Regions from separate parts of the Homo sapiens genome. Here region 1 is linked to region 2. Evidence: fine-mapped expression QTL. A gene starts in region 2. The other region holds a variant in brackets. All regions are shown on one strand. Distances are between the middles of the regions.

Region 1 (16,092 bases), 43 kb after region 2:
TTCAGCAGGATGCAGATTCCGTGATTACAGTGGGCCGAGGAGAAGTGGTCACTGTTCGAGTACCCACCCATGAAGAAGGATCATATCTCTTTTGGGAATTTGCCACAGACAATTATGACATTGGGTTTGGGGTGTATTTTGAATGGACAGACTCTCCAAACACTGCTGTCAGCGTGCATGTCAGTGAGTCCAGCGATGACGACGAGGAGGAAGAAGGTAGAACCCTTGGTCCATATTCAGTAGCTGCTGGGTTGTGTGTTGGCAGAAATGGTACATAGTTCAGGTGTCACCCAGCCTTATGCTTCCTGACTAACACTTCATGGTTAGGGAACACTTTCTTCATTAGTGGGACCTTGGGCTGAAAATGTTATGAGGCCAGGCTCCTGTAGGGGACTGGGGCCTAAACCTGAATTTTTCTGAATGCCAGGAAAATCTATTTGGCAATTTGCTATTTTACTCCTTTCTGAATACTATTTTACTTCTAACCGTGTGTGTTGAAAAGCCAAATATGCAAGATTACTTCAAAAAAAATTTTTTTTTTTTTGAGACAGAGTCTCACTCTGTCACCCAGGCTGGAGTGCAGTGGCATGATCTCTGCTCACAGTAGTCTCGGCCTCTTAGGTTCAAGCGATTCTCCTGCCTCAGCCTCCTGAGTAGCTGGGATTACAGGCACGCACCACTGTGCCCGGCTAATTTTTTGTATTTTTAGTAGAGACGAGGTTTCACCATGTTGGTCAGGCTGGTCTCGAACTCCTGACCTTGTGATCCACCCGCCTCGGCCTCCCAAAGTGCTGGGATTACAGGCGTGAGCCACAGCACCCGACCCACTTTGAAAAATTTTAAAGGAGCAAGTAAGAATTCCTGTCAACCCTGGCATTTATTTAAATTTATATTGTTGATATTAGCATTTTAGGTCATTATTCTAAAATTTTTTATGTAAATACAGAAACTCACCAGAATAGTCCACTTAAAAAAATTTCAATTATTTTTCCATTTGGAAATCCCTATTTTGCTAGAGTGGAATTTTTTTACTTCCTCTGAATAAGTAGACAAAATTGGGTGTTTTAAAGGACAGTCTAAAATATCTTGGTCTAAGAAATAGGTTATAAATGTATTGCTTTTTGAGAAGAGGGTCTCTTTATTTTTGTTACCCAGGAAAGTTAGAATGTAGGGTTTGTTTATATACACTTAATAAGCACTTAATTTATTTGTTGACTTGATTGAAAGTGATATGGAATGCATGCCCTGTGAGAATGGAAAAGCACCATGTCTCAGTTCTTCCAGACTAACTGACCTTTCAGGTGGCTTGTAAACAGACTGCTTGTTCTTGAAGAGGGTTGGCAATGTTGCTTTACAGATTACAGTGGGATAAAGTTAAAAAGATATTATTGAAAGTACATGGAATAAGCCTGAAAGTTCTATCAACTTGTGAAGTACAGAGTTGTCCAATCATATTACCATACCATGCAACACCCTGGGGCCTCTGGGGCTATCTACAGAAACATACACTGCAGGTGTGCCATACATTTCTTGAAATTAAGTTTAATATTCAATTTAACAGTTAATATTTAATGCTAATCAAAAGATAATCCAAAGATAATTCCGTATCATTATCTACATGAACCATCAGAGTATCCCAGAAATTTCAGTACATCTTGCAGATTGACTTTTACCCCAGAAGCAGATTTAAAATCCTTCATTATACCACAGGTCCAGATTCTAGCTGGTAAATATGGAAGCATGAGCTGCTTTGTCTTACACGGCATTTTGTTTTCATCAGTCTTTATTCCTGAGTACCACCAGCAAGGCAAAGCATTGCTCATAAATAATACTGACTGAGACAGAAAGAAAAAATGTAAGATTGAAAAAGCCTGGGCCGGACGCGGTGGCTCACGCCTGTAATCCCAACACTTTGGGAGGCCGAGGTGGGTGGATCACAAGGTCAGGAGTTCGAGACCAGTCTGGCCAACATGGTGAAGCCCTGTCTCTACTAAAAATATAAAAATTAGCCGAGCGTGGTGGTGGGTGCCTGTAATCCCAGCTACTCGGGAGGCTGAGGCAGGAGAATCACTTGAACCTGGGAGGCAGAGGTTGCAGTGAGCCGAGATCACACCACTGCACTCCAGCCTGGGCAACAGAGCGAGACTCCGTCTCAAAAATAAAAAAAAGAAAAAGCCTGTCTGGGCATGGTATCTCATGACTGTAATCTCAGCTTTTGGGGAGGCCAAGTAAGGAAGATCTCTTGAGGCCAGAAGTTTAAGACCAGTCTGGGCAACCCGTTTTGTAGAGTGACACCACATCTCGACAAAAAAAATTTTTTTTTAGTTAGGTGGGTGTGGTGGCATGTACCTGTAGTCCCAGGTACATGGGAGGCTGAGGCAAGAGGATTGCTTGAGTCCAGGAATTCGAGGCTGTAGTGAGCTATATGATCACACCACTGCATTCCAGCCCGAGCGACAGAGCTAGGCCCTCCCTCTAAAAAAAAAAAAAAAAAATTAAAAAAAATAAAAAGCAGTTAGAGAGCAGGACTGTAGCAGATTAGCCAGGGGGCACTACTGTTTTCTCATGTGACCTTCAACAACATCAGAACCTGTTCTGTCCTTTCTGTTGCATCACAGGGACTCATTAAAGTCAGACTGTCTGCAGATGTCTGGGAAGGAAAGTTTTTTGTATGCATACAAATTACTGTACTTACAAAGAGCTTTGTGAGGCCAGGCACGGTGGCCCCTGCCTGTAATCTCAGCACTTTGGGAGGCCAAAGCGGATGGATTGCTAGAGCTCAGGAGTTCAAGACCAGCCTGGGCAACATGATGAAACCCTGTCTCTACCAAAAATACAAAAAACTAGCTGGGTGTGATGGTGTGCACCTGTAGTCCCAGCTACTTGGGAGGCTGAGGTGGGAAAATTGCTTGAGCCCAGGAGGTAGAGGTTGCAGTGAGCTGAGATCAAGTCACTTCACTCCAGCCTGGGCCACAGAGCCAGACCCCATCTCAAAAAAAAAAAAAAAAAAAAAAAAAAAAAGATGGCTGGGCGCAGTGGCTGACACCTGTAATCCCAGCACTTTGGGAGCCTGAGGTGGGTGAATCACCTGAGGTCAGGAGTTCAAGACCAGCCTGGCCAACATGGTGAAACCCCATCTCTACTAAAAGTACAAAAATTAGCCAGGCATGGTGGCACATGCCTGTAATCCCAGCTACTTGGGAGACTGAGGCAGGAGAATCGCTTGAACCCGGGAGGTGGAGATTGCAGTGAGCTGAGATCGTGCCATTGCACTCCAGCCTGGGCGACAGAGCCAGACTCCGTCTCAAAAAAAAAAAAAAATGAAAGAGCTTTGTGAATAAGAATTCTCTGTTCAGAAGTTGGTTGAGGTAATGTATTTCTCCTGGCTTGCCTATTAGAGAGCTTCTAAAAGGTGGTTACTGCCTAGTCTGAACCCTCAGCTGATGATAGTTTTGGGGTTATATTGGTGTTGGGAAGATCACTAGTGAAAATGGCAGGGGTTCATTTCTAGAGGTAAGAACCTTAATATCCTTGATCTTAGTTCTAATATGTCCCTCAAATGAAAGATGGCATTCCCTGTACTTGTACCATTCCTAATCATAAAATGATTTGCAGCTAAAACATTTTAGCCTCACAGCAGTGAAGCTTTATCATTCCTAAGAATTGTTCATTACATGAGCGTCACTTCATCCCATTTAAAGATTTAGCTCACAAATTGTATTTGTCCATATGCCTTAGAAGCTACTGTCCTACCGTGTCTTGTATTTCATATGGTAGAAGAGTCTGAGTTTTTTGGGTTTTGGTTTGGTTTTTCTTCCTTAGGTCTTGAAAGGTAGACAGAGGAGTTTGCTTTCTCTGAAGAAGCATGGATGGTAACACATCCTCCTGTTTTAATTCTCCATTTTCTTCATTGTTTACAGGTCCTAAACCTTGGCTTAAATTCATAAAAGATGCCTTTTCATCTATCCCAGTAATCTTTAGTTTTATAGATTTAAAACAAAATTTGAGTCTTGAATCAATGGACCAGTCTATTTCTTGGATGTCAACAATAGTGTACATTTTGGATGGTTCTGTATTTCTCATTTGCATGTGAAACATGCTTAATTATAGGTATTTCTGTGGTTAAGTAAATCTGGTTTTGACCTACCTTTATAAGAGTGCCATCTGCTTTTTTAAAATAAACTTTTAATTTTAGAATAGTTTTAGATTTACAGAAAAGTTACAAAGATAGCACAAAGAGTACCCATATACCCTGCACCAAGTTCCCTCTGTTGTTAGCATCTTACATTGTACTGTGGTGCACTCATCACAGCTAATGAAACAATATTGATACATTGATTCATTAATTAACTAAAGTCCATATTTATTCAGATGTTTTTAGTTTTTACCTAATGTTCCAAGATCCTTTCCAGGATGCCACATTATAGTCAGTCATCATATCTCCTTAATCTGCTATAGACGGTGAGAATTTCTCAAACTTACCTTGTTTTAAATTCCTGATAGTGGCCATTGACAAGCATCACTCAGTGTGTTGCCAGAATTCACTCTGCCATGTTATAAACCTGAAAATCCATGCCTGTAGTCCCAGTCTCTTAAACAAACAAACAAACAAAAACAACAACCATAAACCCGAAAGTCTTGTCTTCTGTGCTGAATACTCCCTTGACCTCTTTGAGCTGGTTTGTATTAAATATGTTAAACTGTGACTTCGAAGCTGGTTCATAATTTTCTCATTCCTGTAGGTTTCTAGAGGCATTTTTTTTCCTAACCTCATAGCATTACAGTTCAAAAAACTCTTAACCGGGGCAAACCTTTCAGAGCCCATTTTTTGCCACTTAGATCATCTCTGGGTTAAATTGGCCTAGTGAAAATAATTGAATTTTCAGAGTATCTCTGAATGCCTATCTCTCTACTATGATTTTTTCATTTTACTGCTTATATTTAAGATATACAGAAAGCAATAGTCCTCACAAATCATCTTCCATCTTTCTAAAATGGGGAGGACTCATATTGGTCAGAAGGAGGATGATGAGAGCAACATTTTCATGTTACTCAGATGAGTGAAATTCCTGAGGATGAATTAGGAATTGAATGGCTATGGAAAGGGGAAAATGGGACCTTGAAATAGGAATGGTAGTAAGCACAGAAAGAGATAGGATGCTGACCACTGCTACCACTAGATGTTCATCACTGGGCTCCCAGGGCTCAGAACAGGGTTTGGTGTATAGCACATACTTAGGTATTTGAATGAATGAGTGAATGAATGAATGAATGAACGAACTAATAAATGCTCACATGCACATAACTTGTTAAATGGTTCAACAGAATTCCCAACAAGAGCAGTTTCTCAAAGAAAGGATAGGCTGGGCACGGTGGCTCACGCCTGTAATCCCAGCACTTTGGGAGGCCGAGGCAGGTGGGTCACAAGGTCAGGAGATTGAGACAATCCTGGCCAACATGGTGAAAGTCCATGTCTACTAAAAATACAAAAATTACCTGGATGTAGTGGTGCACGCCTGTAATCCCAGCTACTTGGGAAGCTGAGGCAGGAGAATCGCTTGCACCCAGGAGGTGGAGGTTGCAATGAGCTGAGATCACGCCGCTGCACTCCATCCTGGGTGACAGAGCAAGACTCTGTCTCCAGAAAAAAAAGAAAGGATAGATTTTAATTGCCTGATGCAAGTGTGGTTTTCCTGAATCTGTTCATTGACTTGTCTCTGTTCTTACAGAAAACATCGGTTGTGAAGAGAAAGCCAAAAAGAATGCCAACAAGCCTTTGCTGGATGAGATTGTGCCTGTGTACCGACGGGACTGTCATGAGGAGGTGTATGCTGGCAGCCATCAATATCCAGGGAGAGGAGTCTATCTCCTCAAGTTTGACAACTCCTACTCTTTGTGGCGGTCAAAATCAGTCTACTACAGAGTCTATTATACTAGATAAAAATGTTGTTACAAAGTCTGGAGTCTAGGGTTGGGCAGAAGATGACATTTAATTTGGAAATTTCTTTTTACTTTTGTGGAGCATTAGAGTCACAGTTTACCTTATTGATATTGGTCTGATGGTTTGTGAACTCTTGCTGGGAATCAAAATTTCCTTGAGACTCTTTAGCATTCATACTTTGGGGTTAAAGGAGATTCCTCAGACTCATCCAGCCCTTGGGTGCTGACCAGCAGAGTCACTAGTGGATGCTGAAGTTACATGAGCTACATGTTAAATATTTAAAGTCTCCAAAATAAAACACCCCAACGTTGACCTTACCCGGCTGATGGTTAGCCCCTTGCTGCCTGCTCCATGTGTCTTATGAGAGCCCGTAGTTACAGTGTCCTCTAATTTGAAATCCATAAGTTAACAAGTCTATATCAGGTGCAGCTGGCTTTGATTAAAGGCCATTTTTAAAACTTAAAAACTCAACACCTCACAGATTATAATAGAAAAAGAAATGGCCTCAGTTTGATCTCGTTCAGAATGACCCAGATTGTTTCTGCTTTGGGTGCAGCTGTTTAGTTCAGAGTTATATTACAGAGAATTATTTTCTGAGATAATCTTAAACTAGAATGTTCAAAACTAATTGATAATTGAAGTATCAAGATACGTAGAACACCTCAGAGATTTTTCTTCAGGAACTTCCACAAACTTTGAATCCTTGTATCTTTATTTGGTATTCATACTACTAGTAGCAAAATACAGGTTTTTTGTTTTGTTTTGTTTTG[TTTTGG/G]CTTCATAGAGTATCTCAAATTGAAACTTTTCTGCACAAAGAATAAAATTAAGGATTTTATAAACTCAAATTGGCACCTACTGAATTAAAATACATAAAATCATTTAAATATAATTCAGCATATGGGAAGTAACATTGCACTAATATGGAAATCACTGCCAGAGACAGTCTATTTTCTTTTAATTTGTTACTACTTAGTCACAAACCCCACATTATTCCAGTTTGGAATTACTTATTAAGGAGAATTGGAAATACATATGCCCATGCTTAAATTTTATAGCTTTAATTTGTGTTATTTCTTTATTGACGGGAAGAGGTACATCTTTTTTTCCTTACTGAAAACAAATATGGATTAATTGCCTCAAATTTGTATAAGTGATTGGCTAGTGATTCTTGTTTTCAGAAGGGAGAGTGGTATAGATAGAAAATGACAAAGATGGCAATATACACTTAATGTTGTTATTGTATGTTGTTACTGAAGTACTTAGATTTTTAAAATTTCAAATCCTAAATCACTTCTTGTAGGAGGGTTTTCATTAACTGCAGTATATACAGTTCACTACATATGGGTTGTTTGAGTTTTTTGTGTGCTGTATTTCTTTCTGTTTTTTAATACCTGGTTTTGTACATATCTAACTCTGTTCTCTTTTGGTTGTTCAGAAACTGGATTTTTTTTTTCTTAAGCAGTGCTTAATTTGTGTTTTTTAATTTTGATTCAGAAGTAGTCCCAGCTCATAGGTGTTCATACTGTTACATCCAGAACATTTGTCAGGCTCTCTGTCAGCTTTCATGTACATATGGTATAGAAACCATGGAGTTAGGCACTTCCTGGATTTTTTTTTTATGAGAAAAATACTGTATTTAAAATGTAAAATAAACTTTTAAAAAGCAGGCACTAATATATATTTCTTCCAGCCTTTGATTACAAATTTGTCCTTGCACATGTTAAGATGAATTATCTCCTAAAAATATCATTGTTCTTGGGAGCAGTGTATGTTACTTTACATAGCAGCGGTTCCTGTCATGTGTTCATGTCAGAATATTTTTGGTTTTAAACTTTCTTATTGCCTTTGGCTGTTGATTAGTACAGTACAAGTGCGATTTCAAAAAGATCTTGAAAGTAATATATTTAATCAATTAAAATGTTTATCTGTAACTTGTTGATGTTTCATTAATATAGTTACTCTCTGAAGCATTAGTACAGTATTTCAACATTTGGGTAGGAGAAAAAGAAATGTTTCAAACATCTTTTTTGTTTTAAAAGGCTCTAGTTGAAAAACAACTCTTTCTGGCCAATTATTTAGTTTTACTATTAATTACCTTAGTGAGTTAAAATAGATTTAAATTTTTCCACACTTTTAAATGCAAAGGCTAGCACTGATTTTTCTTATTGAAAATGACTAGGTTATAAAGTTGTTTCTCTACACTACCATGTATGTAGTGTGTTCCATTAAATATGTGGACCCCACACACTTTAATGGATCTCCAGAGGCAGAGCCCTCGCTTGCTCAGGGTGGATGATTGCAGAGCACTTGTGGGGAAGTGCGCGATCAGTGTGATGTGGAGTCCCAGAATGAGGTTGCTACATCCAGATGACCCCACTGATAGGCAGGGTGACTGGCATAATTTTTTTCTTTTGAAATCTGGGGAGACAGATGAGGTGACCATCTTGGTTATTTTTGCTGTGTGGGATACCATAAAGCCAGACTGAAGACGCATTAAGGAGAGCAGTTGAGGTAAGCACATCTTGGAAAGTATGCTACCGAGTCTTGACCATCTATCTTTTGGAGCAGGAGAAGCAACCGGTTCAAAATAATAAATAATTGCTAATAATTCATTAGGGCTTAAAGTTCAACAGTCAGGGGCCGGGCGCGGTGGCTCACGCCTGTAATCCCAACACTTTGGGAGGCCGAGGCGGGCAGATCACGAGGTCAGGAGATTGAGACCATCCTGGCTAACACGGTGAAACCCCATCTCTACTAAAAATACAAAAAATTAGCCAGGCGTGGTGGCGGGCACCTGTAGTCCCAGCTACTCGGGAGGCTGAAGCAGGAGAATGGTGTGAACCTGGGAGGCGGAGCTTGCAGTGAGCCAAGATCACGCCACTACACTCCAGCCTGGCTGACTGAGCGAGACTCTGTCTCAAAAAAATAAAAATAAAAGTTCAACAGTCAGTAGCTGTGCATGGGGGTGCACACCTGTAGTCCCAGCTACTCGGGAGGCTGAGGCATGAGAATCGCTTGAACCTGGAAGGCATAGGTTGCAGTGAGCCCAGATCACACCACTACACTCCAGCCTGGGCGACAGAGCAAGACTCTGTCTTGGGGAAAAAAAAAATAAAGTTCAACAATCTACAACCAAAACCATCTTTGCTTCTCTCCCTGGCTTTTTCTCAGTTCAGTACTTCCATCTGCAACCTAAAAACGTGTGCCTGTGTATCTACTTGGGGGAGAGCAGATCTTCATTTCTATTCATTAGCTTTTCAAATTACGTGTGAATCAGCATTGGACTTTTGTCTCACGTATATCTCAGTTCTTCAGTTTTCTTAAAATGTATTTTCTTTTTTCTTTTTTCTTTTTTTTTTTGAGACAGGGTCTCACTCTGTCACCTAGGGTGAAGTGCAGTGGTACAATCACAGATCACTGCAGCCTCGACCTGGGCTCAAGCGATCCTCCCACCTCAGCCTCCCCAGTAGCTGGGACTATAGGTGCATACACTACCATGCCTGGCTAATTTTTGTATTTTTTGTAGAGATGAGGTTTTGCCATGTTGTCCAGGCTGGTCTCAAACTCCTGGATTCAAGTGATCCACCCGCTTCAGCCTCCCAAAGTGCTGGTATTACAGGCATAAGCCACAGCACCCTACCCTAATTTTTTTTTTCTTTTTTTTTTTTTTTTTGGTGAGACGGAGATTTACTCTTGTTGCCGAGGCTGGAGTGCAATGGCGCGATCTCGGCTCACTGCATCCTCCGCCTCCCAGGTTCAAGCGATTCTCCTGCCTCAGCCTCCCAAGTAGCTGGGACTACAGGCATGTGTCACCACGCCCGGCTAATTTTGTATTTTTAGTAGAGACGGGGTTTCACCGTGTTGCCCAGGCTGATATCGAACTCCTGACCTCAGGTAATCTGCCCGCCTCGGCCTCCCAAAGTGCTGGGATTACAGGTGTGAGCCACCCGGCCACCCCGCCCTAATTTTTATATTCTTAGGAGAGATGGGGGTTCACCATGTTGGCCAGGCTGGTCTCGAACTCCAGACCTCAGGTGATCTGCCTGTTGTAGGCCTCCTAAAGTGCTGGGATTATAGGCGTGAGCCACCGTGCCAGGCCAATAAAAACGATTTTTATCTTTTTCCAAGGTCATTAACTTAAATGTCTCCAGTTAAAGGTAACACCTTTTTTGGGCATGGCACAGTATGGAAATGTGAACATGTTTTTCATAAGGTCTACATTTTGCAACTTAAAATTCCAGGTTGTGTTTTGGAGAACTTTTTTTTAATTTTTATTTTTTTAATTTTTTTGAGATGGAGTCTCGCTCTGTCGCCCAGGCTGGAGTGCAGTGGCACGATCTCGGCTCACTGCAAGTTCTGCCTCCTGGGTTCACGCCATTCTCCTGCCTCAGCTTCCCGAGTAGCTGGGACTACAGGCACCCACCACCATGCCCGGCTAATTTTTTGTATTTTTAGTAGAGACGGGGTTTCACCGTGTTAGCCAGGATGGTCTCAATCTCCTGACCTCGTGATCCGCCCGCCTCGGCCTCCCAAAGTGCTGGGATTACAGGCGTGAGCCACTGCACCCGGCCCGGAGAACTTTGAAGTATTGTTCTATCGTGTTCTTTTAATCAACTGTGTGTTCTTCCATAGAACGTCTTTTTGGCTGGTTTTCTGTTATTGAACATTTAGGTTACTTCTGATTTTTTTTGTTATCATTGTTATTAGAAGTGATGTTCCAATTATTTGTCTCTCCGCAAATCTGCATGAGGTTTTCAAAAGTATATACCAAGAAGTGGATACTGGGCCAGGTGTGGTGGCTCACGCCTGTAATCCCAGCACTTAGGGAGGCTGAGGTGGGCAGATCAATTGAGGCCAGGAGTTCAAGACCAGCCTGGCCAACATGGCAGAACCCTATCTCTACTAAAAATACAAAAAATTAGCCGAGCGTGGTGGCAGGCACTTGTAATCTCAGCTAGTTGGGAGGCTGAGGCACAAGAATCGCTTGAACTCAGGAGGCGGATGTTGCAGTGAGATGAGATCGTGCCACTGCACTCCAGCCTGGGTGACAGAGTGAGACTCTGCCTCAAAAAAAGAAAAAAAAAAAGTGGATACTGGATCATAAATTCTTGGCATTTTTATTTTATAAATAAATAAATTTATTCCTTCCTGAACTACTAGGGAGGCAGAGGCCAGAGGATCACTTAAGCACAGGAGTTGAAGGCTGCAGTGAGCTGATGGCACCACTGCACTCCAGCCTCAGTGACAGAGCAAGACTCTGTCTCAGAAACAGAATTCTGAAAAGAAAAGAAATTCTTATACATGTCTGCTTATGCTCATGTGCAAGTTTCTCCAGTGTTTATACCAAGAAGCAGAATTGTTAAGCCGTAACTATGTAGGTCTATTTTAGACAATACAAAACTGCTCTTCAAACGTGGTGCCAATTTAAACTGCCAGTAGTAAAAGAGTTCCTGTGTTCCATATCTTTGCTGAATTGTCAGATTTTGTAATTGTACCAGTTTGGTGGGGTGTAAAACAGAATCTCATCTGTGGTTTCAATTTATATTTTCTTAATAACCAGTGGAGCTGGGCGCAGTGGCTCACTCCTGTAATCCCAGCACTTTGGGAGGCCGAGGTGGGCGGATCACTTGAGGTCAGGAGTTCAAGACTAGCCCGACCAACATGGTGAAATCCTGTCTTTACTAAAAATACAAAAATTAGCTGGGCCTGGTGGCGCGTGCCTGTAATTCCAGCTACTCAGGAGTCTGAGACAGGAGAATCGCTTGAACCCAGGAGGCGGAGGTTGCAAGAGCCGAGATCATGCCATTGCACCCCAGCCTGGGCAACAGAGTGCCACTCCATCTCAAAAAAAAATAAAATAAATAAAAAATAATAAGCATGAATAACCATCTTTTCATATGTTACTGGCCTTCTGTGAGTTGTATATTTATATCCTTTGTTCATTATTCTGTTGTACATGTCTTGATTTGTAGGCGTACTTTAAATATTCTGGATACTACAGTCTTTTTGGTCGTGCGCATCATAAATAATTGGTGCCACACTTTGGGTTTTTGGTCTCGAACTCCTGACCTCAAGTGATCTGCCCGCTTCAGCCTCCCAAAGTGCTAGAATTACAGATGTGAGCCACCACACCCAGCCATTTTTTTTTTTTTTTTTTTGAGACAGAGTCTCACTCTGTCGCCCAGGCTGGAGTACAGTGGCACCATCTCGGCTCACCGGAACCTCCACCTCCCAGGTTCAAGCTGTTCTCCTGCCTCAGCCTCTCAAGTAGCTGGGATTACAGGCACCCGCCCCCATGCCGGGCTAATTTTTTGTATTTTTTAGTAGAGACGAGGTTTCACCATGTTGGCCAGGCTGGTCTGGAACTTCTGACCTCAGGTGATCCACCTGCCTCAGCCTCCCAAAGTGCTGGGATTACAGGCATGAGCCACTGCACCCAGTCCTCATTTAGATTTATTAAACTTTCATGGTTCGAGCTTTCCATATGTTTTGTTTGTGACATGGTCTCTCTGGAGTACACTGGTACAAGCCTTGAACTCCTGGGCTTAAATGACCCTCCCACCCCAGCCTCCCAAAGTACTGGGATTACAGGTGTGAGCCACTGTGCTTGGCTTCCCCTGCTCCTCAGATTCTTCAGGTAGAAACTTAAGTTATTGATTTGAGCCTCCCTTTTTCTTAATCCAAAGCTAAAAACTTTTGAGTGTTGCTTTTTTACATCTCATAAATTTGGATATATTGGGGTTTTGTTTGCATTTAGTTTAAAATTCTTTTTTTTTTTTTTTTTGAGACGGAGTCTCACTCTGTTGCTCAGGCTGGAGTGCAGTGGCATAATCCTGGCTCACTGCAACCTCCGCCTCCCAAGTTCAAGCGATTCTCCTACCTCAGCCTCCCGAGTAGCTGGGATTACAGGCACATGCCACCATGCCCAGCTAATTTTGTATTTTTAGTAGAGACAGGGTTTCACATGTTGGCCAGGCTGGTCTCCAACTCCTGACCTCAGGTGATCCACCCACCTAGACCTCCCAAAGTGCCAGGATTACAGGCGTGAGCCACCGAGCCCGGCCCAGTTTAAAATATTTTCTAATTTCCTTTGTGATTTCTTCCTTGTTACATGGGTTATTTAGAAGTGTATTAGGCTCCATGTATTTGAGGATTTCCCAAGTCTTTTTCTGTTGTTGATTTCTAATTTAATTTCATTATTTCATTTTTTTTTTTATTTACCAAGGCTTGTTTTATGTCCCAGAATGGTGTCTTTTAGTGGATGTTCCATGTTCACTTGAGTAGAATGTGTAGTCTGCTGTCATTGGGTGGAATGTTCTGTAAATGTCAGCCAAGTTAAGTTGGTTGGTAGTGATGGTAAGGTTTGCTTGTTCTGTCAGTTACCAAAAGAGGAGTTTTGAATTATTCAACTAAATTGTAGATTTGTTCCTCCCCCGCACCCCCCACTTTTTTTTGGCCATTTTTGCTTTATTTATTTCGAAGTTTTCTGTTGGTGTATACACGTTTATGATTGTATGGCTTCTTGATGAACTGACCTCTTTATTATTATGTAACATATCTCTTCATGTCTAGTTATATTCCTTGTTCTGAAGTCCATTTCATCTGGTATTAGTGTTGCCACTCGTGCTTTCTTTTGATTAAAGTTCACATGATATATCTTATTCCATCTTTTTATTTTTTTATTTTATTTTATTTTATTTTATTTTTATTTTCTTGAGACAGGGTTTTGCTCTGTCCCCCGGGCTGGGGGACAGCTTAGAGCCCAGGAGGTCAAGGCTGCGGTGAGTTATAACCGGTGGTGCAGTTATAACTCACCGCAGCCTTGACCTCCTAGGTTCTAAGCTGTTCTTCTGCCTTAGCCTCTCATGTAGTTGAGACTACAGGTTTGCACCACAACACCTGGCTAATTTTTTTTTACTTTTTGTATAGACAGGGTCTCACTTTGTTGCCCAGGCTGGTCTCTAACTCCTGGATTCAAGCCATCAACCCACCTTGGCCTCCCAAAGTGCTAGGATTACAGGCATGAGCCACTGTGCCCAACCTATCCATCTTTTTACTTTTTAACTTATCTATGTCTTTATATTTAAAGTGGGTTCCTTGTTGACAGCATATAATTTGAGTCTTTTTAAAATCCAATCTGACAGTCATTTTCTCTTAATTGGCATGTTTAGACAATTTACATTTAATGTAATTATCAATGTGATTGGATTTAAATATACAGTTTTGCTATTTTCTCTTTGTCCCATCTGTTTTTTTTTTTTTTTTTTTTTGAGACAGAGTTTTGCTCTTGTTGCCCAGGCTGGAGTGCAATGGCGTGATCTCGGCTCACCGCAACCTCTGCCTCCTCGGTTCAAGTGATTCTCCTGCCTCAGCCTCTCAAGTAGCTGGGATTACAGGAATGTGCCACCACGCCCGGCTAATTTTGTATTTTTAGTAGAGACAGAGTTTCTCCATGTTGGTCAGGCTGGTCTCAAACTCCTTACCTCAGGTGATCCACCCGCCTCGGCCTCCCAAAGTGCTGGGATTACAGGCATGAGCCACCGCACCCAGCCCCCATCTGTTCTTGGGATTATTTTTTCCCTTTTGTATGGCCTTCTTTTGGATTGAGTATTTTTTATAGATCTGTTTTCTCCTCTTATTGACTTATTACATTAGTTCTTCTGTTTTATTTTTAGTTTTGTTGTTTTTTAGTGTGCTTGGATCCAAAATATATATCTTTAACACAGCACAGACTACTTTCAAATATATTACACTACTTCACATACAGCATAAGAACAATACAACAGGCCGGGTGTGGTGGCTTACACCTGTAATCCCAGCACTTTGGGAAGCTGAGGTGGGTGGACGGCTTGAGGCCAGGAGTTCGAGACCAGTCTGGCCAACATGGTGAAACCCTGTCTGTACCAAAAATACAAACAATTAGCCGGGGGTGGTGGCAGGCACCTGTAATCTCTGCTACTCGGGAGCTTGAGGCAAGAGAATCGCTTGAACCCGGGAGGCGGAGGTTGCAGTGAGCCGAGATCGTGCCGCTGCACCCCAGCCTGGGCGTCAGAGTAAGACTCAGTCTCAAAAAAGTAACATTACAGCAATATATTTCCATTTCCTCCCTAGTAGTTTAAGAGTAGATTCTTGCCTGATTTTTTCTGGAGACAGAGTCTCGCTCATTCTCCCAGGCTGGAGTGCAGTGGCGCGATCTCAGCTCACTGCAAAGCACCACCTTCCGGTTCACGCCATTCTCCTGCCTCTGCCTCCCGAGTAGCTGGGACTACAGGCGCCCGCCACTACGCCCGGCTAATTTTTTTGTATTTTTAGTAGAGACGGGGTTTCACCGTGTTAACCAGGATGGTCTCGATCTCCTGCCCTCGTCCCTTCGTGGCCTCCCAAAGTGCTGGGATTACAGGAGTGAGCCACCGCACCTGGCCCTTTTGCCTGATCTTTTATGTGAGGGGTTTGCTTCCCTTCCCCGGTGGTTTAAAGTTTTTGTTTCATAGAAAAGAAGGGTTCTGGGAAAGGGTTTTCCTGCCTGTCCTTGGGATCAGCTGATCATTTCTACTTGTCTGTGCTGCCAAGGGTGACTCTCCCCAGCTTCCTGCTCTGTACCACTGGAGGCCCATCCTGGGAAAGTGTGTAGGTGACTGTGATTCCTCTTGTCAGGGTCTCCGCTGTTCAAAATTGATGCCCCAACACTTGAACTTTAAGAACTGTTAAAATTGGCCGGGCACAGTGGCTCACCCCTGTAATCCTAGCACTTTGAGAGGCTGAGGCGGGCGGATTGCCTGAGCTCAGGAGTTTGAGACCAACCTGGGCAACATGGTGAACCTCGTCTCTACTAAAATACAAAAGAAAAATTAGCTGGGCGTGGCGGCGTGCACCTGTAGTCCCAGCTACTCAGGGGGCTGAGGCAGGAGAATTGCTTGCACCCGGGAGGCGGAGGTAGCAGTGAGCCAAGATCGCGCCACTACACCTCGGCCTCCCAAAGTGCTGGGATTACAGGTGTGAGCCACTGCACCCGGCCCTCTTTCTGGGTTTTTAAGCTTCACTGCGTGAGGATAGGTGGGGAGTAGGTACCATCCCATGAGAGGCCAAGCGGTCTCTGCAGAGTGAGGGCAGGTGGTCAGCCAGGCCAGCGGAGGGGAGACTGGAGGGAGCTG
Region 2 (16,092 bases):
GCAGATGGTATTCCTTCTGCCTATCTGATTGTTTCCACATCCTTCAGATGTAAAGGAGCACAGGGACCAATCAGATAATTCTATCCTGTGTGGAAGCCATCCACAAACCTTCCAGACATTGTGTATTCCTCTTTCTTCTATCTTAGGGAGTTATGAATGCCTACAGTGGTGCTGTAGACAGAATGTTTACCTCTTCCTAAAACGTGTATGTTGAAACCTAATCCCCTATGTGTTGGTATAGGAGGTGGGGCCCTTGGGAGGTTATGAGGTCATGAGGGGAGAGCCCTCATGAATGGGATTAGAGCCCTTATAAAAGAGACCCCAGGCCAGGTATGGTGGCTCACACCTGTAATCCCAACACTTTGGGAGGCTGAGGCAGGTGGATTACTTGAGTCCAGGAGTTCAAGACGAGCTTGAGAAACCCCATCTCTACAAAAAAAATACAAAAATTAGCCAGGTGTGATGCAGTGTGTCTGTAGTCTCAGCTAATTGGGAGGTTGAGGTGGGAGGATCACCTGAGCCTGGGAGGCGGAGGTTGCAGTGAGATTGCGCCACTGCACTCCAGCCTGGGTGACAGAGTGAGACCCTGTCTCAAAAATAAAATAAAAGAGACTCCAGAGAGCTCCCTTGTCCCTTCTACCATGTGAGGACTCAGCCAGAGGATGGCCATCTATAAACTAGGAAGCAGGACTTCACCAGACACTGAATCTGCTGGAGCCTTGATCTGGGACTTCTCAGCCTCTCGAATGGTGAGCAATAAATTTCTGTTGTTTTTAAGCTACCCAGTAAATGGTATTTTGTTATAGCAATTCAAGCAGACTAAGACAGTGGTCAGGCAAGTAACAATATAAATTGATAGAGAGCTGTGTAAGATGATAAACCGATTTTTTTTTTTTTTTTTGAGACAGAGCTTTGCTCTTGTCGCCCAGGTTGGAATGCGGTGGCGCGATCTCGGCTCACTCCAATCTCCACCTCCCATGTTCAAGTGATTCTCCTGCCTCAGCATCCTGAGTAGCTGGGACTACAGGCACACACCACCACGCCTGGCTAATTTTTGTATTTTTAGTAGAGACAGGATTTTGCCATGTTGGCCAGGCTGGTCTCGAACTCCTGATCTCAGGTGATCCACCCACCTTGGCCTCCCAAAGTGCTGGGATTATAGGTGTGAGCCACTGCGCCCAGCTGATAAACTGATTTTTATCATTTTCTACAAAACCAAATATAGGTCCATGATAGATAGCATGGACAGTGTCTGTCACCATGGGCTGGGGGACTGTTGAGAACTTGAGAGCACATGTCTCTCCTGAAGAAGGCATTCTCTACACAACTGCACCTCATTGTTGTCAAGCACCAGTGTCAGGCCCACAGTTGCCAGATTTCTTAGTTTTTTAAGGTAAGTCATAAATCTGGATTTTTACATTAAAATTCCAGATTTTAAAATGCTAGCAACCAATTCAAATTTAAAGCATTATAGGGGCTAATTCTTCCAAGCCAAATAAAAGATACTAGTGGGTAGGCTTTATCTTGGGAGCCCCGAGTGTGCAAACTCTCTTTTACATTGTAAGGGAGCATTGTATATAATAGTGGACAAAATTTACTAAAGGCCCAGTACGTGTCAGGCTAGTCCTTTTTGCTATGTTGCCCAGGCTGGAGTATAGTGGCACGATCATAGTTCACTATAACCTCAAATATCCACTTACCTCAGCCTCCTGAATAGCTAGGACTACAGGTGTGCACCACCACACCTGGCCAATGTTTGAAATTTTTTGTAAAGACAGGGTCTCGCTGTGTTGTCCAGGCTGGTCTTGAACTCCTGGCCTCAAGTGATCCTCCCACCTTGGCCTCCCAAAGTGCTGGGTTTACAGGTGTGAGCCACTGTGCCTAGTCTCAAACAGGTCCTTTTCTATGTGCTTTACATGTACAGTATTCATAGATTCAGTCCTCTCAACAGCCTAAGAGGGGGATAGTACTATTATTCTCATTTTATAAAGGAGGAAACAGAAGTAAAGTAACTGACTCAACGTCACGAGTTGGTAAAATTCCAGCACTGGAAGCCTGGCCCTAATTTGGTGCTTTTGCCACAGTCTCACCTACTGGACCATAAACACCTTGGGTGTAGATACCACAGCACTCACCTTTGTATCCTAAAATACCTGGTATACGGCCAGGCATGGTGGCTCATGCCTGTAATCCCAGCGCTTTGGGAGGCCAAGGTGGGCGGATCACGAGGTCAAGTTCGAGACCAGCCTGGCCAAGATAGTGAAACACTGTCTTTACTAAAAATACAAAAATTAGCTGAGCATGGTGGTGCGCACCTATAGTCCCAGCTACTCAGGAGGCTGAGGCAGGAGAATTGCTTGAACCCGGGAGGCAGAGGTTGTGATGAGCCTAGATCATCCCACTGCACTCCAGCCTGGACAACAGAGCGAGACTCCATCTCAAAAAAAAAAATAATAATAAATAAAATAAAATAAAATACCTGGTATACAAGGCACTCCTTACATGTATGTTGAGCTGAACTGATATCGTACATAATAGTGTAATTACACCTTCATTCATTCACTCAGTAAGACATTCTGAACACCTACCATGTTTCCTATCCTGTGCTAGGGACTGTGGAAGTCCAGGGAAATGCCCCTTGATCTCTAAGTGCTTGCAGTCAAGGAATACAAAATAATTTTCACTACTAAAGGGTACTGCATTACTAAATAAGACTAACTGCAAAACTTTACTGAGTACTGATTATTAGTTCACCAGAAAAAGCAGGAAACAAAAAGTTGAACTCAGTCCCTGTCTAGTGATCCACGATATTTACAGAAAAGATGAAAATATGTGGAGAGAACAAATGGAAAGTCTAAATTTCAGAAAGCATTTCAGAAATGGTAAACACTTCATGTGGAAAATTATTGAATGGAATGGAGCTTAAGAAATTCACACAGCAAAGTTTGCGGATTGGAAAGTATCCTTTTTTGGCTGGGCGCGGTGGCTCATGCCTGGAATCCCAGCACTTTGGGAGGCCAAGGCAGGCAGATCACCTGAGATCAGAGGTTCGAGACCAGCCTGGGCAACATGGTGAAACCCCATCTCTACTAAAAATACAAAAATTAGCTGGGCATGGTGGTGCATTCTTCTTTTTTTTTTTTTTTTTTTTTTTGAGATGGAGTCTTGCTCTGTCACCCAGGCTGGAGTGCAGTGGCGCGATCTCGGCTCACTGCAAGTTCCGCCTCCTGGGATCGAGCCATTCTCCTGCCTCAGCCTCCCGAGTAGCTGGGACTACAGGCGCCCGCCACCACGCACAGCTAATTTTTTGTATTTTTAGTAGAGACGAGGTTTCACTGTGTTAGCCAGGATGGTCTCGATCTCCTGACCTCGCGATCTGCCCGCCTCGGCCTCCCAAAGTGCTGGGATTACAGGCGTGAGCTACCGCGCCTGGCTGGTGGTGCATTCTTGTAATCCCAGCTACTCAGGAGGCTGAGTCAGGAGAATTGCTTGAACCCAGGAGGCGGAGGTTGCAGTGAGCCGAGATCGCGCCACTGCACTCCGGCCTGGGCAACAGAGTGAGATTCCATCTCAAAAAAAAAAAAAAAAGTATCCTTTTTTTTTTTTTTAAATGAAAGCAAGTTTATTAAGAAAGTAAAGGAATAAAAGAATGGGTACACCATAGGCAGAACACCCAAAAGTATCCTCTTTTATAAAAGAACAGACATGGAGAAGATATTTGAAAGTTTTCAAAAATACACCTTTTTGATCAATCTGTGTGCCTCCTCACATATAAAAGACAGGGATATAGAAAAACAGGTAGTTGGCCGGGCACGGTGGCTCACGCCTGTAATCCCAGCACTTGGGGAGGCCAAGGCAGGCGCATCACGAGGTCAGGAGATTGAGACCATCCTGGCTAACACGGTGAAACCCCGTCTCTACTAAAAATACAAAAAAATTAGCCAGGTGTGGTGGCAGGAGCCTGTAGTCCCAGCTACTCAGGAGACTGAGGCAGGAGAATGGCGTGAACCCGGGAGGCGGAGCTTGCAGTGAGCCAAGATCGCGCCACTGCACTCCAGCCTGGGCGACAGAACGAGACTCCGTCTCAAAAAAAAAGGAAAAGAAAAACAGATAGTTGCGCTGAACTGTTTATGTAAGTTAGATTCTACTGTGACAAGTGCATTATAACAAAGATCTATTGAAAAATCTTGGGGGAAGAAGGAATTACAAAACAGTAATGGATGTTTGTTATTTTATGGTAATGGTTATACAGGTATATGCCTGTGCCAAAACTCATCATATTGTAAACTTTAATATTTGCAGTTTATTATACAACAATTATACTCAATAAAGCATGGGAAAAACACGTTTCCTAGACTTGCTATTCAAAGTGTGGTCTGTAGACAGCAGCATCGGCATCACCAGAAAGCTTATGAGAAATGTATACTCTCAGGCCTCCCTCTATACCTACTGAGTCAGAATCTGCAGTTTAATAAGACATTCAGGTGAGCGTGTCTGGAACTCATCTCCCACAGTGAACTGTTAAAGCGAAGTTATATTCTCTAATTTTTTAATTTTATTTTTTAGAAACAGGGTCTCCTTCTGTCGCCCAGGCTGGAATGCAGTGACGCCATCATGGTTTACTGGAGCCTTGACCTCCCAGGCTCAAGTGATCCTTCCACCTCAGCCTCCCAAGTAGCTGGACCCTAGGCACATGCCACCATGCCCAGCTAATTTTTTATTTTTTGTAGAGACAGGGTCTTCCTATGCTGCCCAGGCTGTTCTCAAACTCCTGGGCTCGAACAATCCTCCTGCCTCAGCCTCCCAAAGTGCTGGGATTACAGGCATGACGCACTGTGCCAACCCCTAATGTTTTTAGTCATTAAGGGCAACCACCTACACAATGGCCCTTGATGTTTCGATTAGCAAGAGGTTCAGATGCTTGGTCTAGAGGATGTTTGGGTTTTCCAACCATATTCAATATGTTAAATTACAAAACAATAAAAAAGTCCATATAATTTTTTTTAATGTATGTCTTTTTTTGAGACAGTCTCTCTCCATCACCTAGGCTGGAGCGCAGTGGTGTGATCTTGGCTCACTGCAACATCCACCTCTCAGGTTCAAGCAATTCTCCTGCCTCAGCCTCCTGAGCAGCTGGGATTACAAGTGCCTACCACCACGCCCAGCTAATTTTTGTATAAAAAGTCCATGTAATTAATTAATTACCATATTTTACCTACCTTCCTAGGTATATTCTATAGGTTTTAATAATTATTGTATACTTTTTAAAAAAATAACTTTTTTTCTGATTACAAAAGAAATGCTTATCGTGAAAACTTGGAAAACAGAATCTAGCATTTCATGAAGAAGGGTTATATTTACCCTACTCATTATCATCCCAACAGTTATTGAATGTTAAAGGTAGAACACTGAGCAAAACACAGGGGAATATATATGTATATATAACATTTTGAAGGTTAGGCACATAATATGCATATTTTTAAGCTAATGAAGCTAAATATAAAGATCCAAGCTAAGTGGGAAGAACACAGACCTTAGAGCAGTAGAATTAGAGTTTTTAGTCCTCTACAACTAGAAGTGGGTTTACCATAAAGTTAATGAAGCTCAAGCTTCAGGGCCCCTTGCTTACACAGGCCCCTCCCAAGGCCCTTAGAGCGGCCTTAGCAGTATACACTTCTGTAACAGTTTTGAGAGTAAGATATTTAAGACCTCTGTCTTCGTTTCTAACTTCCCTTCGTCATCCTCCTCTGGTTAGGAGGTATTGAAATGGCTATAGGCTTTGTGGGGGATTTGGCTAAGGGGACAATGAATAGGGATACATTTAATTTGGGGTCAGTGGCATGCATTTAAGTGGTTTGCAGTCACTTCTGCATGTTTTTAAATTATTGCTCACCATGGGTGTAGGAATGGCTTTCTGGAATATACCTACTGCCCATTATGTCAATTCAGCCAGCACCATGTCACAAAAGTGCAAGGCCAAAGGGCGAAGGAACCCTATGTTGCCTGACACAGGAAGTACTTGGGTAGTGGAGGAGCAACAAGGTTTGAAAGAAAAGAAAGAGCTAGTAAAATTCTTCCATTCTTTTTCCTCTTCTGGGGATGTTGTCTATAGGCACATAGAATGGTCCAGCGTTTGACATACTGTTGTAGGCTTTCCTACAATACAGCTTCTAATAAAACTAGGCTGTCCTGAACCCCTGGTAATATAATTGCTTACCTTTATACCAAGAAGGCTGGGAAAGCACCAAAATCTACTGTGGTGTGTACCCACGCAGACTTCAAGGGGTTCGTGCTATAAGACCCGAAGTCTTATGAGATTGTCCAAAACACAAAAAACCATGTCAGCAGGGCCTATGGTGGTTCCATGTGTGCTATATGTGTTTGTGACAGGATCAAGCATGTTTTCCTTATCGAGGAAAAGAAAATCATTGTGAGAGTGTTGAAGGCACAAGCACAGGGTCAGAAAGCTAAATAAAAAATGAAGCTTCTTTGAGTAATTAAAATTAAAAGACTTAAAAATATGCTTCCAACCATCAGAAGTGGAAGATTATAAGGAGAGGGATCAATTCTCTCAATGCCTAATCAAAATGAAGGTTCTCACTCACTGAGAATCTAAGTCATATCTGCAATTATAACTGCACCATACTTCATGTTTTTATGTGAAGCATGCAAAAGGGAATAGATTAGAAACCCTATGTTTATGGGACAAAAACTTATAGTTGTACTACAGTGAGTCTGTCTGTATGTGAAGTTATATGTCTTATCCACCGTAATGAATGAGATCCTGTCTGAATGCAGCATACAAATCTTGTCCTGAAAAAAACCCTCGGCCAGGCGCGGTGGCTCACGCCTGTAATCCCAGCACTTTGGGAGGCCGAGGCGGGCATATCACAAGGTCAGGAGATTGAGACCATCCTGGCTAACACGGTGAAACCTCGTCTCTACTAAAAATACAAAAAAATTAGCCGGGCATGGTGGTGGGCACCTATAGTCCCAGCTACTCAGGAGGCTGAGGCAGGAGAATGGCGTGAACCCTGGAGGCGGAGCTTGCAGTGAGCCAAGATCGCGCCACTGCACTCCAGCGTGGGCGACAGAGAGAGACTCCGTCTCAAAAAAAAGAAAAAAACTCTCTAGGGCTTCAGTAAAAACCACACACAAAATTGTCACTGAAGCAGCCAAACGGCCATAAAAATCTCATAGCACATCCATGAAACTTGAGAGAGGTTTCCCAAACTGAACAATAACCCTAAAAAAGTACGTTAACAATATCAGTAATGAGTTGTGATGCTGAAATAAATTTATAAACAATTATTAAGAAACAAATTTAATCAGCCATGCTGGAGAAAAGACTGATCTTTCTCTTTTCTTTATAGAGAATTACAAAATACGCCGGGCGCGGTGGCTCTCACCTGTAATCCCAGCACTTTGGGGAGGCTGAGGCGGGCAGATCACATGAGGTCAGGAGTTTGAGACCAGCCTGGCCAACATGGGGAAACTCTGACTCTACTAAGTTTACAAAAATTAGCCGGGCGTGGTGGTGAGCACCTGTAATCCCAACTACTTGGGAGGCTGAGGCAGGAGAGTTGCTTGAACCCGGGAGGCAGAGGTTGCAGTGAACCGAATTGCACCACTACACTCCAGCCTGGGTGGCACAGCAGGACTGTCTGCAAAAAACAAAAAAAAAAAAAAAAAAAAAAAGTTACAAAATAATTGTTATAGGAAAAGGCAATCAGAAGTACGCAGCCAAAACAAAGGTGGGAAAAATGATCATAAATGGTGCTCCCAAAGTCTGGAAACACAGGTGAATATACATAATGTCGGGGGCGACTTCAATCTTTTAGAAAAAAATAGGTTTCTGGGCTCTCAGACGCCCTGTAGAAGAATATCAGGCAGTCAATGAAAATATTACGGTTATGTGTGTGATGTTTGTGGGTTTTATTAACTTTTAAAATATCATTTGTTTTTTCTTTCTCTTTCTAAATATACATTCACTTTCCTACCCTTCTGCGCGTAACTTTTTGTACTCTTTCCTAATGAGGGTCCCCACAAATTGTATGAGCTGCGCTTCCTGCAAAACCAGGATCAGCCCCGTCTGCAACCTCAAAGTCACTGAATTTCTCTGCAGTCTCAGTTTCCCCTTTTAAAAAAATTGGGAATTTGCCCTGCATTTCCTTAGAGTTGCTGTGAAGGCCAAACGAGATGGTGGTGGGCAAAAGAGCTCTGCCAACCACGCAGGCCCCTGCAAATGTGAAGGGCCTCTGACCTGGAGGGTTGGGTGCTGGCCGACCTCGTCAATCCTCCCTACTCCGACCCCCGCGCGGGGCTCCACTGACCCCGCCCCTGCTGGGCACTGACAGCCGCAGCACCGAACCGAGCGGTGGGGGTGGTAGCACCCGCCCACCTGGAGCAACTGGGATCCGAAAGGATGGGGTGCGGGGGAGGGGAGTTCGGGACCAACGGGAGTTGGGGAGCCTGAAGGGTGGTCGCTGAGCCAGGGCAACTGACGATTCCGGAGGGGGTGGGGCGCCAGGCCTCAGCCCCTCTCCCGGAGCCCTCCAGCCTCCTCAGCAGCGGAAGTTCCGGTGTCGGTAAGCGGAGGTCAGAGGTCAGCAGGAAGTCGATACGTGGCTGCCGTCTGTCCCCGCTGAGGAGGTGCAGCAGCCGGAGATGGCGGCGGTGCTGAACGCAGAGCGACTCGAGGTGTCCGTCGACGGCCTCACGCTCAGCCCGGACCCGGAGGAGCGGCCTGGGGCGGAGGGCGCCCCGCTGCTGCCGCCACCGCTGCCACCGCCCTCGCCACCTGGATCCGGTCGCGGCCCGGGCGCCTCAGGGGAGCAGCCCGAGCCCGGGGAGGCGGCGGCTGGGGGCGCGGCGGAGGAGGCGCGGCGGCTGGAGCAGCGCTGGGGTTTCGGCCTGGAGGAGTTGTACGGCCTGGCACTGCGCTTCTTCAAAGGTGAGCCGGGCCAGCCCCACCCCCGCCGCTTCTGCCCGGCCCCGGGAGCCCGGCGTGGGCTGTGGTCCCCAGGGTGACTGGACCAGACTTGCCCTCACCCACTCATACTGGGCTGTGGTGACTCAAGCGGGGTTCCCTCCTTGGGGGTACCCGAAGTTTGTCACTACCCGCTTGGCCACTAGGTCACACCCCTGACGGGCCTGCAACCTTGGTTTAGCAGTCATGTCCCGCCTCCCAGAGGTTACCGGGACATTTTACCTGATTTAGCTTCTGGGATTTCCAGGAGCCCTGGTGGAAGAATGAGCCCACTTTCTTCCAAAGGATCCCATTCTGGGATTGCCTTTTATTATTATTATTTTTTTAACTGACGCTTTTCTTTTCCTATTTCCCATGGCTTGTCACATCAGAACCCGCCGATTTTTACCCTTAGTGGAAGAAATCTGTCAAGAGGTTCCATACATAGCTTTTCCAGCCATTCTTGGGAACCATAAACTGGAACAGGACTTGATCCCCCGGCAGATTGATGTGGCAGAGAGGAGGAAGTAAAGTGTTAAGCTCATCATCCTCTCCGGCTTGTCAAACTCTTGAGGAGAGATGTCCACTATGTTCTAGTAACTTCTAGGTGGTTAAAATTTTACATTGTAAGCAATGTGCAAGAGTGAATTCTCAGAGTAAGGCCTAACAGTACCTTCTGTGCTTTTCGCATAATTAATTGTTAAATGTCTCTTGTCTTAGAGCAAGATTGTAGTGTGCGGTTTTTTTTTTTTTTAATTGGGTGATTCACTTAGTCGAATGGTGGAGAGACCAATCACATGATTTTTGTCAGTGGGAAAAACTGATGAAAGCCCGTTAGTTTGATTCTTAAAGATACTTAGTCTTGTAGGGCGAATGGACAGGGAGGGACATCAGCAAATGCAACTTTAAAAGTGGTTGCTAGGTTCCACGTACATTCCAGAGCAGCATATTTATGACACTTTCCCCAGAGGGAGTACCTTTTGGAGTACATATTTTACTAGCCAAAGTTGAGTAGTTCAATGTAATGATACACACGGAAGTTGTTTTCTCTCAAAATAACTTTAATTGTGCAAACTAGTGAAAGTTTTATAAATTTTCCAGAACATTTGATCATTTCACATTCAATGACATATTCGTGGTCATTGCACAATGAGTTGAGCCCTCTGTGTACTAACTAGCTTGGGGAATTGGTAATGGCTAATGGGTTTTGGATCATTTGACTTTTAGATCACCGGCTTGAATTTAGAGTTTGCTGTAGTGATGATATATTACCACTTGATAAAAATCAGGTGGTTTCTGTACAATTCATATAGCTACATTCCATCTTAAATTTTTATTCTTGGAACTTATTTTTCAGTAAAGTATATTGTAGCAGAGAGTAAGAGTAGAAATGAACTAATTCCTTTTTTTTTTTTTTTTTGAGCTGGAGTCCTGCTCTGTTGCAGGACTGAGGGAGGCTGAGGCAGGAGAATCACTTGAACCCGGGAGGCGGAGGTTGCAGTGAGCCAAGATGGCACCATTGTACTCCAGCCTGGGCGACGAGCAAAACTCCGTCTAAAAAAAAAAAAAGAATCGCTTCAATATGGGAGGCAGAGGTTGCAGTGAGCCGAGATCATGCCACTGCACTCCATCCTGGGCGACAAAGTGAAATTCTGTCTCAAAACAAAGAAAAAGATTAAAACACTGTAACGTGTAGTATACTTAACATTGTTTGGAGAGTCAGGAAGCTCTGGATTCTAGTTACCTTGTAAACTAGACAATTAACTTTTCCAGAATCAGTTTCATATGTATAAAGGGAGCTGGATTCTATAAAATATGATGTCTCAGATTTAAGATTCAGTGGTCTTAACCTAACAGATTATTTTAACATGTGTCTTGAGTGGTAGGAATCCTGGGGAAACTTATAACTTGGGGCCTAGGTGTTAGTCACCTTAGAGAATAAAGCTACACTGATAGGTGTGGTTCACTCACTTCCTAAATGAAGTTCTCAAAGCAATATCCAGGTACTAAAAAGGAGAAATAGCTGTGTAGCAATTAAAAGCTACCTTTCTGCATGTGTCATTGGAGACTGTTAGTATATGAGACACTAACTGACAAAAGGGAAGGATGTAAAAGCAGTCAGAAGAATTATGGAATGTGGAGTGAGCCAAGTAATGCTGCCTTTGTTTTGTTTTTTGTTTTTGAGATAGAGTCTCACTCTGTCGCCCAGGCTGGAGTGCAGTGGTGCCATCTCGGGGCTCACTGCAAGCTCCACCTCCCGGATTCACTCCATTCTCCTGCCTCAGCCTCCCGAGTAGCTGGGACTACAGGTGCCCACCACCACGCCCGGCTAATTTTTTGTATTTTTCGTAGAGACGAGGTTTCACCGTGTTAGCCAGGATGGTCTCGATTTCCTGACCTCGTGATCCTCCTGCGTCAGCCTCCCAAAGTGCTGGGATTACAGGTGTGAGCCACTGTGCCCAGCCTGGTTTTTTTTTTTTTTTTTTTTTTTAGGCAGAGTTTGATTCTTGTTGCTCAGGCTAGAGTGCAATGGCGCGATCTCAGCTCACTGCAACCTCTGCCTCGAGGGTTCAAGTGATTCTCCTGCCTCTGCCTCCCGAGTAGCTGAGATTACAGGCATGTGCCACCACGCCCAGGTACTTTTGTATTTCTAGTAGAGACGGGGTTTCTCCATGCTGGTCTCGAACTGCCGACCTCAGGTGATCTGCCCACCTTGGCCTCCCAAAGTGTTGGGATTATAGGCGTGAGCCACCGTGCCCGGCACCTTTGTTTTAATGTGTGGATTTTTCTGGTGGAACACATGGTGTTTTGTCAGTCTTGCTGGGACTTTTAATCGCTATTCTATGGTTTTATACCAGTATCTCACGAGAATTAGAAATAACATTACATTTTCGGCCGGGTGTGGTAGCTTTTGCCTGTAATCCCAGCACTTTGGGAGGCCGAGGCGGGTGGATCACAAGGTCAGGAGATCGAGACCACCCTGGCTAACACGGTGAAACCTCATCTGTACTAAAAATAAAAAAATAAAAAAATTAGCTGGGCGTGGTGGCAGGCGCCTATAGTCCCAGCTACTTGGGAGGCTGAGGCAGGAGAATCACTTGAACCCTCAAGGCGGAGCTTGCAGTGAGCCAAGATTTCGTCCCTGCCCTCCAGCCTGGGCAACAGAGCAAGACTCCATCTCAAAAAAATAAATAAATAAAGGAAAGAACATTACATTTTCTCTTCCACTGTGGAATAAATACGAATCTTGAAAGCATGGATATATTTTTCCATTGCAAATAGCTTGGGTTGGAAATGACAAGCCCTATTTCTTATTCCATCCTTGTCAGGGTGGTAATAGGCCAGTGACTGAATCAATTACGTCAACTATTCTTAATTTTTTATGACAGTAAAAGTAAAATAGATGAAGATGTGGGTAAATGTAAGTTAGCATTTTACCATCTAAATTTCAGACATTATTGACTTTTCAGTATGGATAGTTTTATATTAGGTTACAACTATAAATGAATAGTACGTTATCTTTTGCTTAGAGTCCAAAAGAGGAGTTAAGGACCCAGTGACAACTGCAGTACAGTGTGGAGGACTGAGGGAGCAGATGCCATTCCAGAGGGGGGAAGGCCAAGAGCCATGAAAGCCATGAGAAGTCAAAGCATGTCTGTTTGCAAAATGGAAAATAGAAAGCAGTTTGATGGAGAGAGCTGGGAAGGTAACTGAGTTCAATTCTTGGAAGGACTTGCATGCCATTGTCATTTTTTTTTTCTGAGACGGAGTCTTGCTATGTCACCCAGGCTGGAATGCAGTGGCATGATCTCCACTCCCTGCAACCTCTGCCTCCTGGGTTCATGTGATTCTCCTGCCTCAGCCTCGTGAGTAGCTGAGCTTACAGGCTTGTGCCACCACACCCAGCTAATTTTTGTATTATTAATAGAGATGGGGTTTCACCATGTTGGCCAGTCTGGTCTTGGACTGACCCCAAATGATCTCCCCGCCTCGGCCTTCCAAAGCGCTGGGATTACAGGCGTGAACCACCGCGCCTGGCCATGTAAGTATTAATAGTTCGGCCTTTTTGTCAGTAAATTAGAAGATGAGGAACCACTGGAGGTTTTTAAAGGGAGGAGCAAAGTTGCTCAATTCTTTTTTTTTTTTTAGACAGTCTGGTTTTGTTATGCAGGCTAGAGGGCAGTAGTGCGATCTTGGCTCACTGCCCCCTATGCCTCCCAGGCTCAAGCCATCCTCCCACCTCATCCTCCTGTGTGACTGGGACCACAGGCACGAGCCACCATGCCCGGCTAATTTTTGTATTTTTTGTAGAGACAGAGGTCTTGCTTTGTTGCCCAGCTGGTCTTTAGCTCCTGAGCTCAAGCGATTCACCCGCCTTGGCCTCTCAAAGTGCTGGGATTACAGGCATGAGCTACCACGCCCGGCCAGAGTTGCCCAGTTCTATTTTAACAATGTTAAGCTAGGTTTTCTTATCTCCATGGGTTAAGGACCCACAGGAATCCAGTGGGTTCATTTTATTATGACCTTTATACTTCTTGGATGGAGTTGACCTGGGGAATTGTATTTTGGTTTTTAGAGTTCTTTGGGGTGGACTTTTCCTTCTCTAATACTTTATTACTGTATTACATTAAGCTGGTAGATTGTTTACATTAATTTAAGATTTCAGAGTAATAATTGTCAATAGTTATTGAGTAGATGTTTACTAAATCTCAGGTACTATGCCAAAAACTGTATGTACATTATTTTGTTTAATCCTCCAAGAGGCCTTCTGTAAGGGTATTAATCCCATTTCTGAGTTAAGGATCCTGCCTCAGGCCCCTCAGTTATTTGGAAGGTAAGTCTTGGACTCATTTTCTTTATGGAATAGTTCTACTAGCATTGCTATTGATTATACCCAATTGTGTTACTGATAGTAGAGTATTATATGTTGGGAGAGAATTATATTAATGATAGCAAACAAATGGACAACTGAAATGGTTCCATTTCCTCTTGTCTTCTTTAAACATAGGCAACTACAAGAGCATTTATAAATGGCTTCCTTAATGTTTTAAAATACTGTACAGCTGTAATTTATTCATTGGAAACATATATAATTAGTGTGCCTCCTGGACTTCAGTGGTCTATCCTCAGATAATTTCAAGTTTGTTACTATGGAACATCTATTAGAGTTCTTTTTCCCTTTTATTATCTTTACCTTTAGACATAAGTATGTAATACTGTAGGAGGATATATAGACCTAAGAGAGACAGATGTAAGACAGAAAAACAATTATAGCCACCAAGTTCATGTTAAATTTGAGCTGAACCAAAACTTTCCTTTGACTGGATTCAGGAATGTGTATGTGTTGTTGTTGTCATTGTTTTTTTTTTTTTTTTTGAGATGGAGTCTCATTCTGTCACCGAGGCTGGAGTGCAATGGCGCGATCTCAGCTCACTGCAGCCTCTGCCTCCTGGGTTCAAGCAATTCTCCTGCCTCAGCCTCCCGAGTAGCTGGGATTACAGGCACATGCCACTACGCCCAGCTAATTTTTGTATTTTTAGTACAGACAGGGTTTCACCATGTTAGTCAGGCTGGTCTCGAGCTCCTGACCTCAGGTAATCCACCTGCCTTGGCCTCCCAAAGTGCTAGAATTACAGGCGTGAGCCACTGTGCCCAGTGTGTATATGTTTTTAATGTAAGTGATTTTAACATTTTCCCGAGGCTTCCCTTTATCACACATGCAGTGCACTAAAGTACACAAATACTAAGTGTGTAGCTTGATGAGTTTTCAGAAAGTGGACAGTGTAGCCAATGCCCAGGAGCAGATGTTTTATCAGTTAACTAATACAAGAGCTACTGTGAATCAGTATTTAGAAAGGTAAGCTCTGGAGTCAACACTCTTTAGGGTGTGTTTTCCTTGCTCTGCCACTTAATTTTGTTAACTTTTTGTGCTTTCCTGTACTCAAAGGGTTGTTTTAGGAATTATAAGAAATTATATATATAAACTCTTAGCAGAATGCCTGGCTATTGGTATTTTTGTGGCTGCTTATGTTGTTGAAAAGGAGGTACTTCTGAGAATTGATTATGGATGTTTTGAGTTAATGGAGGGGAAGTCTTAAAACTTTTACTAAGCAGTTAGTATATGCTAGGCAATTCCCAGAGTGTTTCCTACTCATTGATTTAGGAATACTGCATTGTATTATCCTTTTTTTTTTTTTTTTTTGGGAGACAGAGTCTTGCTCTGTTGCCCAGGCTGGAGTGGAATGGCCCAGTCTTGGCTTACTGCAACCTCCGCCTCCTAGGTTCAGACTATTCTCTTGCCTCAGCCTCCCGAGTAGCTGGGACTACAGGCACGTGCCACCCCACCCAGCTAATCTTTGTATTTTTAGTAGAGACAGGGTTTCACTATGTTGGCTAGGCTGGTCTTGAACTCCTGACCTTGTGATCCATCCACCTCGGCCTCCCAAAGTGCTGGGATTACAGGCGTGAGCTGCTGCACCTAGTTGGTTTTTCAGTTTTAATATTTGGTTTTTTTTGGAGACGGAGTTTCACTCTTGGTGCCCAGGCTAGAGTGCAGTGGTGCGATCTCAGCTCACTGCAACCTCTGCCTTCTGGGTTCAAGCGATTCTCCTGCCTCAGCCTCCCAAGTAGCTGGGATTACAGGTGTGCACCACCACACCCGGCTAATTTTTGTATTTTTAGTAGAGATGGGGTTTCTCCATGTTGGGTCAGGCTGGTCCCAAACTCCCAACATCAGGTGATCTGCCCACCCGGCCTCTCAAAGTACTGGGATTACAGGCGTGAACCACCACGCCTGGCCCAGTTTTAATATTTCTAAAAGATGGATTTTAATCAAAGTGTATTCTCTGTGAGGCAACAGTGTGATATGGCCATGAAATAAAACAGATTTGATCTTAGGCTGCTTTGGTGGAAATATGGTAACTAGGATGAGGGAAAGAGAGAGATAGTCCTGCTCTCCTCTGCACCAAGGAGTACACCTCAAACAAGCCGTGGATACTGCTTGTTTGAGGCATCATCCTTTAGGGTTAAAAACAAAATGGAGCTCATTCAGAAGAGAGCAACTTGTACCTAGTGGGAATTCAAGTCCCTGCCATTATTATCATAATGGCTGCTGTTTAGTCAGT

Alleles and levels. Positions count from the first base shown, and alleles are read on the strand shown. Sizes are in standard deviations (SD) of each study's normalised expression.
With allele G in place of TTTTGG in region 1, the expression in monocytes after interferon gamma of the gene that starts at base 8,602 in region 2 is lower (small effect, 0.32 SD a copy in Fairfax 2014).

What was found.
Region 1: its variant is fine-mapped to the expression of ACBD3 in monocytes after interferon gamma (Fairfax 2014, PIP 0.95). The same link has a PIP of 0.9 or more in NK cells and monocytes.

The regions. Positions count from the first base shown.
Region 1 is chr1:226,136,459-226,152,550 of GRCh38, reverse strand. It overlaps ACBD3 (acyl-CoA binding domain containing 3), which reads left to right. Exons shown (of 8, transcript NM_022735.4): 7 at 1-216; 8 at 5,730-7,872. The coding sequence ends at 5,941. ACBD3-AS1 (ACBD3 antisense RNA 1) reads right to left here and starts at 4,548. Exons shown (of 2, transcript NR_146443.1): 1 at 4,483-4,548. It also overlaps the pseudogene LOC124904586. The variant TTTTGG/G (reference allele first, on the strand shown) is at 6,712.
Region 2 is chr1:226,179,251-226,195,342 of GRCh38, reverse strand. It overlaps ACBD3 (acyl-CoA binding domain containing 3), which reads left to right and starts at 8,602. Exons shown (of 8, transcript NM_022735.4): 1 at 8,602-8,953. The coding sequence starts at 8,668. It overlaps LOC101927247 (a long non-coding RNA gene), which reads right to left and starts at 7,447. Exons shown (of 2, transcript XR_001738504.2): 1 at 7,410-7,447. It also overlaps the pseudogene RPL34P7. RefSeq lists silencers at 8,701-8,995, 8,632-9,111 and enhancers at 12,417-12,917, 12,918-13,418.